Regions from separate parts of the Homo sapiens genome. Here region 2 is linked to region 1. The links come from fine-mapping of genetic effects on gene expression. A gene starts in region 1. The other region holds a variant in brackets. All regions are shown on one strand. Distances are between the middles of the regions. Region 1 holds the start of LINC02673 (long intergenic non-protein coding RNA 2673). Region 2 has its middle 26 kb from the start of LINC02673.

The links. PIP is the estimated chance that this variant, and not a neighbour inherited with it, causes the effect.
Region 2: its variant is fine-mapped to the expression of LINC02673 in thyroid (GTEx, PIP above 0.99). The same link has a PIP of 0.9 or more in testis.

Annotation. Positions count from the first base shown.
Region 1 is chr10:27,341,164-27,346,556 of GRCh38, reverse strand. It overlaps LINC02673 (long intergenic non-protein coding RNA 2673), which reads right to left and starts at 3,121. Exons shown (of 2, transcript NR_187428.1): 1 at 1,906-3,121; 2 at 1,640-1,818.
Region 2 is chr10:27,315,026-27,320,418 of GRCh38, reverse strand. It overlaps the pseudogene ODAD2P1 and the pseudogene RNU6-666P. Among named protein-coding and RNA genes, the nearest start is that of LINC02673, 26 kb to the left of the region's middle. The variant A/CA (reference allele first, on the strand shown) is at 3,191.

The DNA.
Region 1 (5,393 bases):
GATTTGTATAAATGAAAAATTATGACATTACATGATTAGGCAGGGTCAACATTATTAAGACATCAAAAGTACTTTAATTAATAAGTTGATTTTATGGCTGTATGGTATTCCATGGTGTATATGTACCTTTGCAAGGGCATGGACGGAGGTGGAGACCATTATCTTGCAAAGGAATTCAGGAACAGAAAACCAAATACAGCATGTTCTCACTTGTAAGTGGGAGCTAAATGATGAGAACACATGGACACATAGAGGGAAACAACACACACTGGGGCCTATCGGAGGGTGGAAGGTGGAAGGAGAGAGAGGATCGGGAAAAAAAACTAATGGACACCAGGCTTAACACCTGGGTGATGAAATAATCTGTACAACAACCCCGCCCTGCTGACAGACATTTCCCTATGTAACAAACCTGTACATCCTGCACATGTGCCCCTGAGATTAAAATAAAAGTCAAAAAATAAAAAAAATAAAATAAGTTGATTTTAACTCCAATATAGATAACATCTGTGTTCTGGATATAGAAATTTTATTGTAAAGAAGAGCAAACAAATTAAAATATCCATGAAAAGTCTGAGAATTAAAAGAGAGTGACTTCCCCTTTAAAATATTGTAGAGACTTGGAAATTAAAATTGTGTTGTGTTGTTTCATCATTAGTCTGAAAGACCAATGGAATACAACATTCAAAAATGGAATAAAACATATGTAAAAAAGTACTGTGCAATAAAAGCAGGAGTGTAGAAAGAAGAGGCGAAAGCTTGCTGCGTCTCATTGGGCACTGAAGCTCACAGACAGGCAGCAGGCTTTGTCTCTCACCACGTGTGCTTTCTGCAAGTCTGGTATTGCCACATGTGCAGGAAGGACAGTTACCATTTGAGCAAGAGCATTTTGGGGCTAATATGTGATTAATGTGACTTTTTCTGCCTCAATATTCATTGTAACCTGTTCTCATAGCCCACAGTATGTTTCCTGCTGAGCTGAGATGTTACTGCCATTAATAAAGCTGTATTGCCTGCAACTGTCCCCCTTTCTATGTTTGGGAGCTTTGAGAACAGTCACACATGATTGTGTAATTCTTTAGTTCGTCACTTGCCTGGTGAAAGACTTTCTGGGGGGCTCCTCTCCCTACTGGGCCCACAGGGGTAAAAAGCTAGTGAAGAGTTCTGGGACAGAACACTGCATGGGAACAGTGAGATGGGACACTTCAAGGTACAATGCTCTTAACTTATACCCAAACTGATGCAGACAGAAAGTTCCGCATGCCATCAGAAAATGAGAAAAAAAAAACACGTTTGGAAGGTGAAATCATCTTTGGTTGTGAAAAACACTATCTTCTTCAGAGGATGTGCTAAAATCAAAACTAACAGATGATCTATGTCTGGAATAAAAGTGGTCATTTGTTAACAGATGCTGGCGAGGCTGCAAAGGAAACTCCTATTCACTGTCTCTGGGAATGTAAATTAGGTCAGCCACTGTGGAAAGCAGTTTGGGGATTTCTCAAAAGATGTAAAACACAGCTACTAATTGACCCAGCAATCTCATTACTGGGAATATCCCCAAAAGAAAATACAACATTCTACCAAAAAGACACACGCAAACCTGCACACGCAGCACCTCTATCTAATACAAAAGTTGGCATTATTTTAAAAAGTTTTTATTTGTGAAAACTTTTCACCCATGGTAGGGATGAAAAAGTACATTCTCACTAAAGTCAAGAGGCACACACCCAAAGCAGCCCCGGGGGCAGGGCTGGGAAAGCCAGCAGCACCAGCATCCTCAGCACATGCCAGCAGGTGTTGGCTGAAGCAACAGGTGTCCTGGGGAAATGGAAAGGAGTTACTTAGACACAGTTGCTGATTCTCGAATTTCCTATTTTTCCCAGGATGTCTTTATCATTTTCTTACCCTCCTGTCTATGTTTAGACACATGGCCCTCAGAGGTGACTTGTTGGCTGCAGAACGAGGAATTCATCACTGTCCTTTGGTCAAGGTAGAGGGAGTTATGTAATTTCATAAACTGTCCATATGTGATGATGGAAATAAAAAAAGAACTGAAGAGATGGAGAAGATACATCATATTCATGAATAGAATAACTCAGTATCATCAGGATGTCATTTCTTACCAATGTACAGATTCAATGCACTTCTAATCAAAATGGAAGCAAATTATTTTATGGATATAGAAAAAGTAATTCTAAAGCTTATATGGGGAAGAAAAAGACCTTGAATAGCTAACACAATATTGAAGGAGAACAAAGCTGGAGGACAGACAGGCACTACTCAACTTCAAGACTTACTGTAAGGCTACGGTAATCAAGGCAGTATCATATTGATGAAAGAATAGACAGGTTAATGAAACAAGACAGAGAGTTTAGAAATAGCGACACATCGATATATTTAATTAATCTTTGATGAAAAAGTAAAGGCAACATGATGAAACAAAGGTTGGTTTCTTCAGAAAGTGGTGCTGGAACAACTGAATACCCACATGTAAAAAAAATGAATCAGATCTTACCTTCTCACAAAAATTAAGTCAAAATGAATCACGGACCTAAATGTCAAATACAAAACTATAAAACTTCTGGAAAATAACAGGAGAAAATCTAGACTCTCTTGGGTTTGATGATCTCTAGAAAAAAATGCCAAAGTTACAGTACATAAAAGAAATAAGTTCCTGATGGAATATAGATTAAAAATTTTTAATATACAAAATGAAAAAAAATCAGAAGAAAATATAAATGCCTATTTACACAGATACATTTTTATGTTGACAAAACCTTTCTAAGACTCTCAGAAATAAGCATTGTGAAGGTTAATTTAGCAAAACAAAAATTACCCTGCATTTGAGAAAAAATAAAAGGCAGCATACTTGTAAAATATTTACTACACATGTATGTGCATGTGTGTATATATAGCAGATTTAAAAATCTTCATTTTACAGAGAATTCACTCAAATCAACAAAAAAATCCTCTATTTAAAATTGGGCAATTTAAATTAGAGATGTAAATTGCAGATCTAAGAAAAGTACTTTGCCTCTAATTTAAAATTGGGCAAACTCCTTCTTCTAGATCTGCAAGTGACTTATGCACACAGGAAACAATATTTAGTGTTCCTCGTTAGAGAAGGCATTTAAGTTAAAACAGGAATCAAATACTGTTTTCTATCCACAAAGTTTATGAGGATAAAGAGCAGTGATATTTATACTGCTGCTTAAAGTTTAAGTTGCAGATGACTTTTCAAATAGACAATTTGGTGGTAAGTACCATATTTAAAAAATTGTATATGCCTGTTGGTGATCAATTCTATTACATTAAGATATTTTTAGAAAATAAGGAAACATACACACAATTTCTTTTTTGAGCGCTGCTTAAAATATCAGTGTATTAAGAAGAATCCATACAATGGCTTTTATAAATACATTTCAGTGAATTTACAGCGTGGGATAAAATGTGACCACTGAATGTAGAAACATATACAGAAGTATGTTGACATTTGAAAATGTATTTTGGTGTACCAAGTAAGGGTAAAGTTCAGTTTGTTTATACATACAGATGATGGTCTTGTGTTATCTGAAATTATGTACGAAATATGATAAAATTTGTTATTTGAGGGCATTTGTTTTAATATAAAATGTTTTTCCTTTTTATTATCTTTGATTTCTGCATTGAACAAGTACAATGTTATTAGTAAAAGTTTATTATTAATGAAATAATTTTGGGGAAGAGCAGGAATATGAATTTTGCACAGATTAAAATAATTTTTCACTTTCTATATTTTAATTTTTATTTTTTGTGGATTAGTATATTCTGTGAACTTTTAGCATTTTCAGAAGAGAAACTTTTTATCTGTGCTTGTTGATTTACATGTACATTTTATTAGAAACATATTTTTATTATATCTAGATTTATTATATATATGTCAATAATTACAGATTAATCATTTTAGTGTAGTTTTGTTATTAGGAAAATAAAGTAGCAAATATAAGTGCTTTATTTATAGCAGTTTTTTAAGATATTGAACTTCCCAACTATATTTATCCATTCTTTGAATCCATTTATCACATGTAAGCTGAATGCCTATTATGTAGAAGACACATTCTATTAACTCTCAAGACCCTTTCATCCTTAAAAATTTCACATTTACCTGCTCAGCCTCAGCAACATGAGAGGCTTAAAATTGGAGTAATAGGACTGAATCTCAATTGAAGCTTTTCCTCTCATCTTTCAAACAAAAATACTTCTGAAGTGAGAAATTAGTAAAAGATAACTACCAACCACGATTTTGGAAATTTATAACAGCTTTAAATAGTAATATGAATAATTGGAAATACCTAATTTACATGTACTCCCTCCATAAATCTAAATATGAATTAATATACATTCTGTAAATCTAAATACAAAATAAAATGAGCCATACCTATTCATTTGAATCCCAAGTTTTCTTTGGCTTGAAGTTTTTAAAATATTAAAGGAGTACTTTGTTTTAACAATTTGTTGTTTTTATTTCAACTCTCCTTTTGCGTAGTACTCTTAAAAGCTAAAATTTCTTTAAGTGTAAATCCTGTGATTAGGACTACCATCGTCCTGTTGTATATACCATATTCCACTTCATGGAAGGCACCCTGAATTGTGTGATGCCTCCTTATTTTATGTACCAATAAAAGATTGTTTAAATTTTTGCCAAATATAGTTCTAATAAATAATGAATTGTAAGTGGCATTTCAATGTCAGAGATGCTAAAATATGAGAAATTGAGCATCTTAGAACCGTTAAAATACAGTGTTATCTGTAACCTTTAAAACACACCACAAAGTAGGCATGATTGTATTATTTTACTTAAAATGTTGTCTTTGTTAAGTAGAAGTTATAATTATAATATCTAACAATTACTGAGCTGTTACATGTGCTAAAAACTCTTCAAAATACTTTGCATAGATTCTCATCGAGGCATCACAGTGATGTCCTGTGAGATAACTGCTGTATTCATCTTCACTTTATTGATGAGAAAATTGAGGCACAGAGAGGTTAAGAGACAGCTAGTAAGTGAAAGACCGTAAAGTTTATTCAAGCCCAAGTTGAACTGAGTCCAAAGGCCAAGCTCTTTCTATTCAAATAGGCCACTCTTTCATTAATGTAGTGAGTAATAAGAGTGAATGAATGTTGTACTTTCTTAAGGAGAATATTAAATATTTGTTTTGAAGGCAGAGAAAGAGCATGGTATTTAATGTTTACAATTGTATAAATCATTGTATGTTTTGAGACAATGGACTAAACTTTCCTAAAAAGTCCTCTCACTCTCATAGGACTGCTCTACATGGGGCCTGTGTCAACAGCCATGTGGAAGTAATAACACTTCTGGCAGACAGAAAGTGCCGGCTTGATGTCCGTGACAG
Region 2 (5,393 bases), 26 kb after region 1:
CCTGTACAGACCCCGATATCTCCCGGGCTGGGTACACGCAGGTTCACACCCAGGTGTGAGCGAGATTGCCAAACTATACCTATAAGGCATTCAGAGGAGAGAGTCCAAAAGTCGAGAGAACGGACTAATTTAGCTAATTTCACAATAGCCCTGATCGTGGTCGGACTTGTTCCTAGGAAGATGCGAGAGGCTGGCCCTTCCTTCAAGAGCAGATTGCAAAAGGCAGCAGACCAAGTCAAGGCAGGTCACTGCCAAGAGAAGCAGAAGCGGAAACCATCGCCTCTGGCTTAGGCTGCAGAGCGGGAACCCGATTCTCTGAGTCATGTTTCTACCTAAACACGGAGAACAAAAGAGTTAGTGACTGTAAGGGTGGCGCGCCGTGCTATTTCTTGCTACTGAATGGTCCCCACTGGGACATTTTTGCTATGATTGCAGGCGTGGCCAGTGCCCCTGCACGGATTCCGGGAAGGGGTGGGGATAGGAGGTTCGCCCCGGGGAAGGTCACGCTCGGCGGACCCCGGGCTGGGCCTCCCCTCGCCCCTGCCCCGCCGCCTCCCCAGAGCGGCCGCTGTCCCCGCTGGCTGCGGACGGGCGGGCGCCAGAGGTCCCCAGTGCTGGCAGCCTGGTCGCACGCGGGGAAGAGCGAACCGCGGCCCTGGGCGCGGCCGAAGCGCCACTACTGTCTCCTCAAACTATATCTTTTCTTCAAATAAGGAGGAAATTCTTTCGCAAGACAAATAATGAGAAAAACACACTCAAAAATCACATTGAATCAGTGTTTGAAAGGAAGACAGAAAATACTCAGTTTGACTAAACTGTGTATAAAATACCACCTTGTTTAGTTATTTTAGGCAATACCAAACCTTTGTTTTAACCAATTAAAAAAAATCTTGGCCCAGTATGGTGGCTCTCGCCTGTAATCCCAGCACTTTGGGAGGCCAAGGTGGCTGGATCTCTTGAGCCCAGGAGTTTGAGACCAGCCTGGGTAATGTGGCAAAACCCTGTTTCTACAAAACAAAATTCAAAACTAAGCCAAGTGTGGTGACATGCACCAGTAGTCCTAGCTACTCAGGAGGCTGAAGTGGGAGGATCCCTTGAGCCTAGGAGGCGGAGGTTGCAGTGAGCCGCTGGACTCCAGCCTGGGCGACAGAGCCAGACCTTGTCTCAAAAGAAAAAATATATATATTGGCTGGGCACATGGTTCATGCCTGTAATCTCAGTACTTTGGGAGGCAAAGAGGGGAGGATCGCTGGATCCCAGGAGTTTGAGACCAGGCTGGGCAGCGTAGCAGGACCTCATCTCTAAAAAAACAATAATAATAAAATAGCCAGGCACGGTGGTGCACACCTGTTTTCTTTTCCTTTGCAGCACTTATCTCCTAATATTCGATATAACTTATTTGTTTTGTTAATTTGTCTCTCCTACTAGACGTAAGCATCTTGCGGCCACAATTATTTTTCCTGGTTTTTTTTTGTTGTTGTTGTTGTTTCCATTGCTGTGCCCTTAGCACTTAGAACAGTGTCTGGCACACAATGAGCACCTAAGTACTCAATAAATATTTAATAAATATTTGTTGAATGCATGAACTCTGCAGGGAAAAACAGGTACAAACCTGATAGAGACAAGGGTGGGAGCAAGATGGCTTAATGAATATCATTTTATATCACTTTGATTTTGAACTATATAACTGTATTACCAATATATTTTTAAATTAAGGAAACCATAGATGGAATGTAAAATTTTTATCTTTATTGAAACAATATTTTTGCTACCGGGGTTAATAAAATCACTATATACCTTGACTTCCATCTGGAATCTTGTTGTACTGAAAACAGGGTCAATTTTAGATTGGAGGAGTTGGGGGAGAGGAAGGGTAGGAAGAGAAATATATTTTGTCTTCCAGCAAATACATTAGAGACACAGAAATGTTTAAAATGTTGTCCCTGGCTTCCAGGAGCTCAATGACTAGTAGTTGGATCAATCAGTATTTAACGTTCAATATAATACTAATGTACTCAGAATATTATTCTTGCTTATTCATATATATACATATGATATTTCAATTTAAGCAATTATAAACATTGCAAATTTTTCTATTTATTCTTTATTGCTGCATTAAAAAAAAAGCAACCATGTTCCTTTTTCTCTTCAGTCGAAATTCAGAATAAGAGACCACGCAGTAGATAGACAGAGATTAAAATATCAGCTTACTACGGATAAAAGCTAGCCTGGAGAATATGGCTCAGGCGGTAGATAAAGAGGCATGATGATATGTTACATGCAAATGAATATCAATCAACTGTTGGAGCAAAATAAAAACTGTACTAACAGTTATGCAAAGATTCAGAGAATATATCACCTATCCATCCTGTTTGGGCAAAACACTTAAGAAAATAATCAAGACAGGGACTTGAAGATGGAACCATGAAAAAAGGGTGGTGGTGAGCAGAGAAATGGGGGAGTGTCAAAGGCAAAGACACTTTAAACAGAACAGATACACTTCAAGGGAAAAACTAATAATCTGAAGTTCAAAATATTAAACTATCTCAGCAAAATCTAGCAGCTACGTAACTAGATGCAAAACATAAAAACATTCTAAAGGTCTCATCTATTGGGATGAAGGGGAAAGCAATGGACAAATAGAATCTTAGTGAGGAAAAAATCGAAAAACTTGTTTTCCCATGAAAGTGGCAAATAAAGAAGATAACTATGAATGGAATTGTAGAATTGTTTTTCAGTCAAGTTTCCAAATCAACAGCAGTGTGGGGTATCGGGGAAAAGAGTGGATTTCAAATCAGAAAAAGATAAGAAAGTCTAGGGGAGGCCAACAGTAAAATAAAGATGAAGCACAATGTAAGACAGAAGGAATAAATCACATATATCAATTGTTATAATAAATGTGATCAGTCTGCGTACTTCTATTAGGACGGAAACTATCACATTAATCAGAATATGTTTATACCATGTTTGTTTTTATAAGAAGAACACTTTAAAACAAATAAAGATAGGTAGATAAAGGTAAAAAAAAGGTGAGAACAAAGCAAACTCAACAAAAAGAAAGCACGAATGGCAATATTAATGTCAGGTGAATTGAAATCAATAGTTATAAGTATAAATCAGAATAAATAGAATCATTGTTAAGATAAAAGCTATTTTTTGAAGAAAATATAAGTAAAAAATCTGTATGTAC[A/CA]ATAATACACAGTAAAATGTGTACATTTTAAACAATTAAAAAAAAAACTTGGATAAAAATATAATTAAAGTAGGAGCTTTTAATACACATCTCTTAAGAACCTAACTTATCTCTGTAATCCCAGCATTTTGGGAGGCCAAGGCAGGCAGATCACCTGAGGTCAGGGGTTTGAGACCAGCCTGGCCCACATGGTGAAACCCCGTCTTACCAAAAGTACAAAAAAATTAGCTGGGCATGGTGGCAGGTGCCTGTAATCCCAGCTACTCGGGAGGCTGAGGCAGGAGAATAGCTTGAACCTGGGAGGCGGAGACTGCAGTGAGTAGAGATTGCACCACTGCACTCCAGGCTGGGTGACAGAGCGAGACTCCGTCTCAAAAAAAAAAAAAAAAAAAAAAAATTGTTTTACTTATTTATACAAAAGTATTATATAAAATTTTAGGGACCATAATTAAAAACATATTTTTTCAGATAATATTTTCTGAGATTATAAACTACCTATAACTAATTCTGAATTATAAACTAAAAAATTGAATCAAAGCTATATATATATATGTACACACACACATATGTATATATGTAAACACATCCTATTTCCACATTGCTTTTTTAATTGCTATTGTATGATCAACATTTCCATAACCTTATGGTAGCACCACCAAGAGTAGTTTACTATCAGAAGTCTTACCTGGATTGCTATTTTGAGGATTTTTAGATATCTTTTGTTTATATTCCAAAAGACATTGATGAATGCTATGTATAAAAATGTAATAAATAAAATTACTATTTTAACATTTACCAAATTTTCCAAATTTATTAAGTTCTTAGACTATTTCAGACAATATCAGAGCTAACAGCAGAACATTACTTATTCCAGAGACTTTAAGTTTGTAAGCTCTAGGAACTTATTAAGCTGCTAATAAAAGAAGAAAGAAAGTAAGATGAAATACTCATGAATTGAGGTCAGCATAATTCCGTAAATTAACTAGAGTTAGCTTGGCATAATGGAAAATGTCCTTAATTCAGAATAAGTCCTAGTGTGGTAACCAACAGGTATTTTTTCTTGAACAAGTTGCTTGTTAGGCTCAACGTCTTCTAAAAATGAGAATTTTAGAGCCTGATTTCACTAGCTTATTATAAAGATTCAACATGATAATGTTTTTAAAATGCTCGAATAAATAGTGAAGCAATGAAATACCTTGTTGTTCAACCTTATTGCTGAAACTATTTTAAAATTCCCAATAAAATCCAATGTTTTGGCCTGGTGCAGTGGCTCATGCCTGTGATGCAAGCACTTTAGGATGCTGAGACAGGATGACAACTTGAGCCCAGAAATTCAAGACCAGCCTGGGCAACATAGGGATACCCTGTCTCTACAAAACATAAATAAATTTCAAAAAAAAGTTTCTTCGTAGGTTATAATGTTCAAAAGTTGCACTTTTCTGTTATTAACTCCTACTTTTGGTTATTAGATGTTCTATTCTTTGTGGCTTGTAATTCAAGGCATCTAAGCTATTTTATAATTTGTAATGAAATTTATTTATAAATATATGAATTCATTAAATTGGATAACCTGATTAGCCTCTATTACTGAGCTCATCAATCACACCAAGGGCAGAAAACTAATAGATGTCAGCATCTGGCTTGGACTATTACTACTCTTTATCTACCTCCTGAAACTCTGAATCAACAAATCTTTGTTAGAATGATGCTTAGTCACTATGCTCATTTCCAGCTGCTGTGGAAGAAAAAACGCTACCTTTATTTTTTGTAAGTTCCACAAGGAAGATGCAAGTTGGTATTTCCTCATTTCTGAGATGCACTAACAGCATATTGCACACAAGATCCTATGTGTTACCACATCTCATTTCATATATCACCTTGCATCAATATTTCTTGTATGAAAATCACAACTGCAATACTGGGTGACAACCATTTTGCTTTGACTCACACCATTTCCTTGGAGCTAGTTAGAAAGTAGTCACATGCCCTTTTGGAAACTGCAAGAAATATACAACACTTCACAGATCTGTGTGTCATCCTCGTGCAGGGGCCATGCTGATCTTCTCAAAGTTGTTTCAATTTTACTATATGTACTGCTGATGCCAGCATGAATCCCTACTTTTATACCTGAAGACTGATCAGTGATGGATGAGGCTTAGCTCTGTTAAATCTAACCAACTTACCTGGGGTTTTGTGAAGTCTA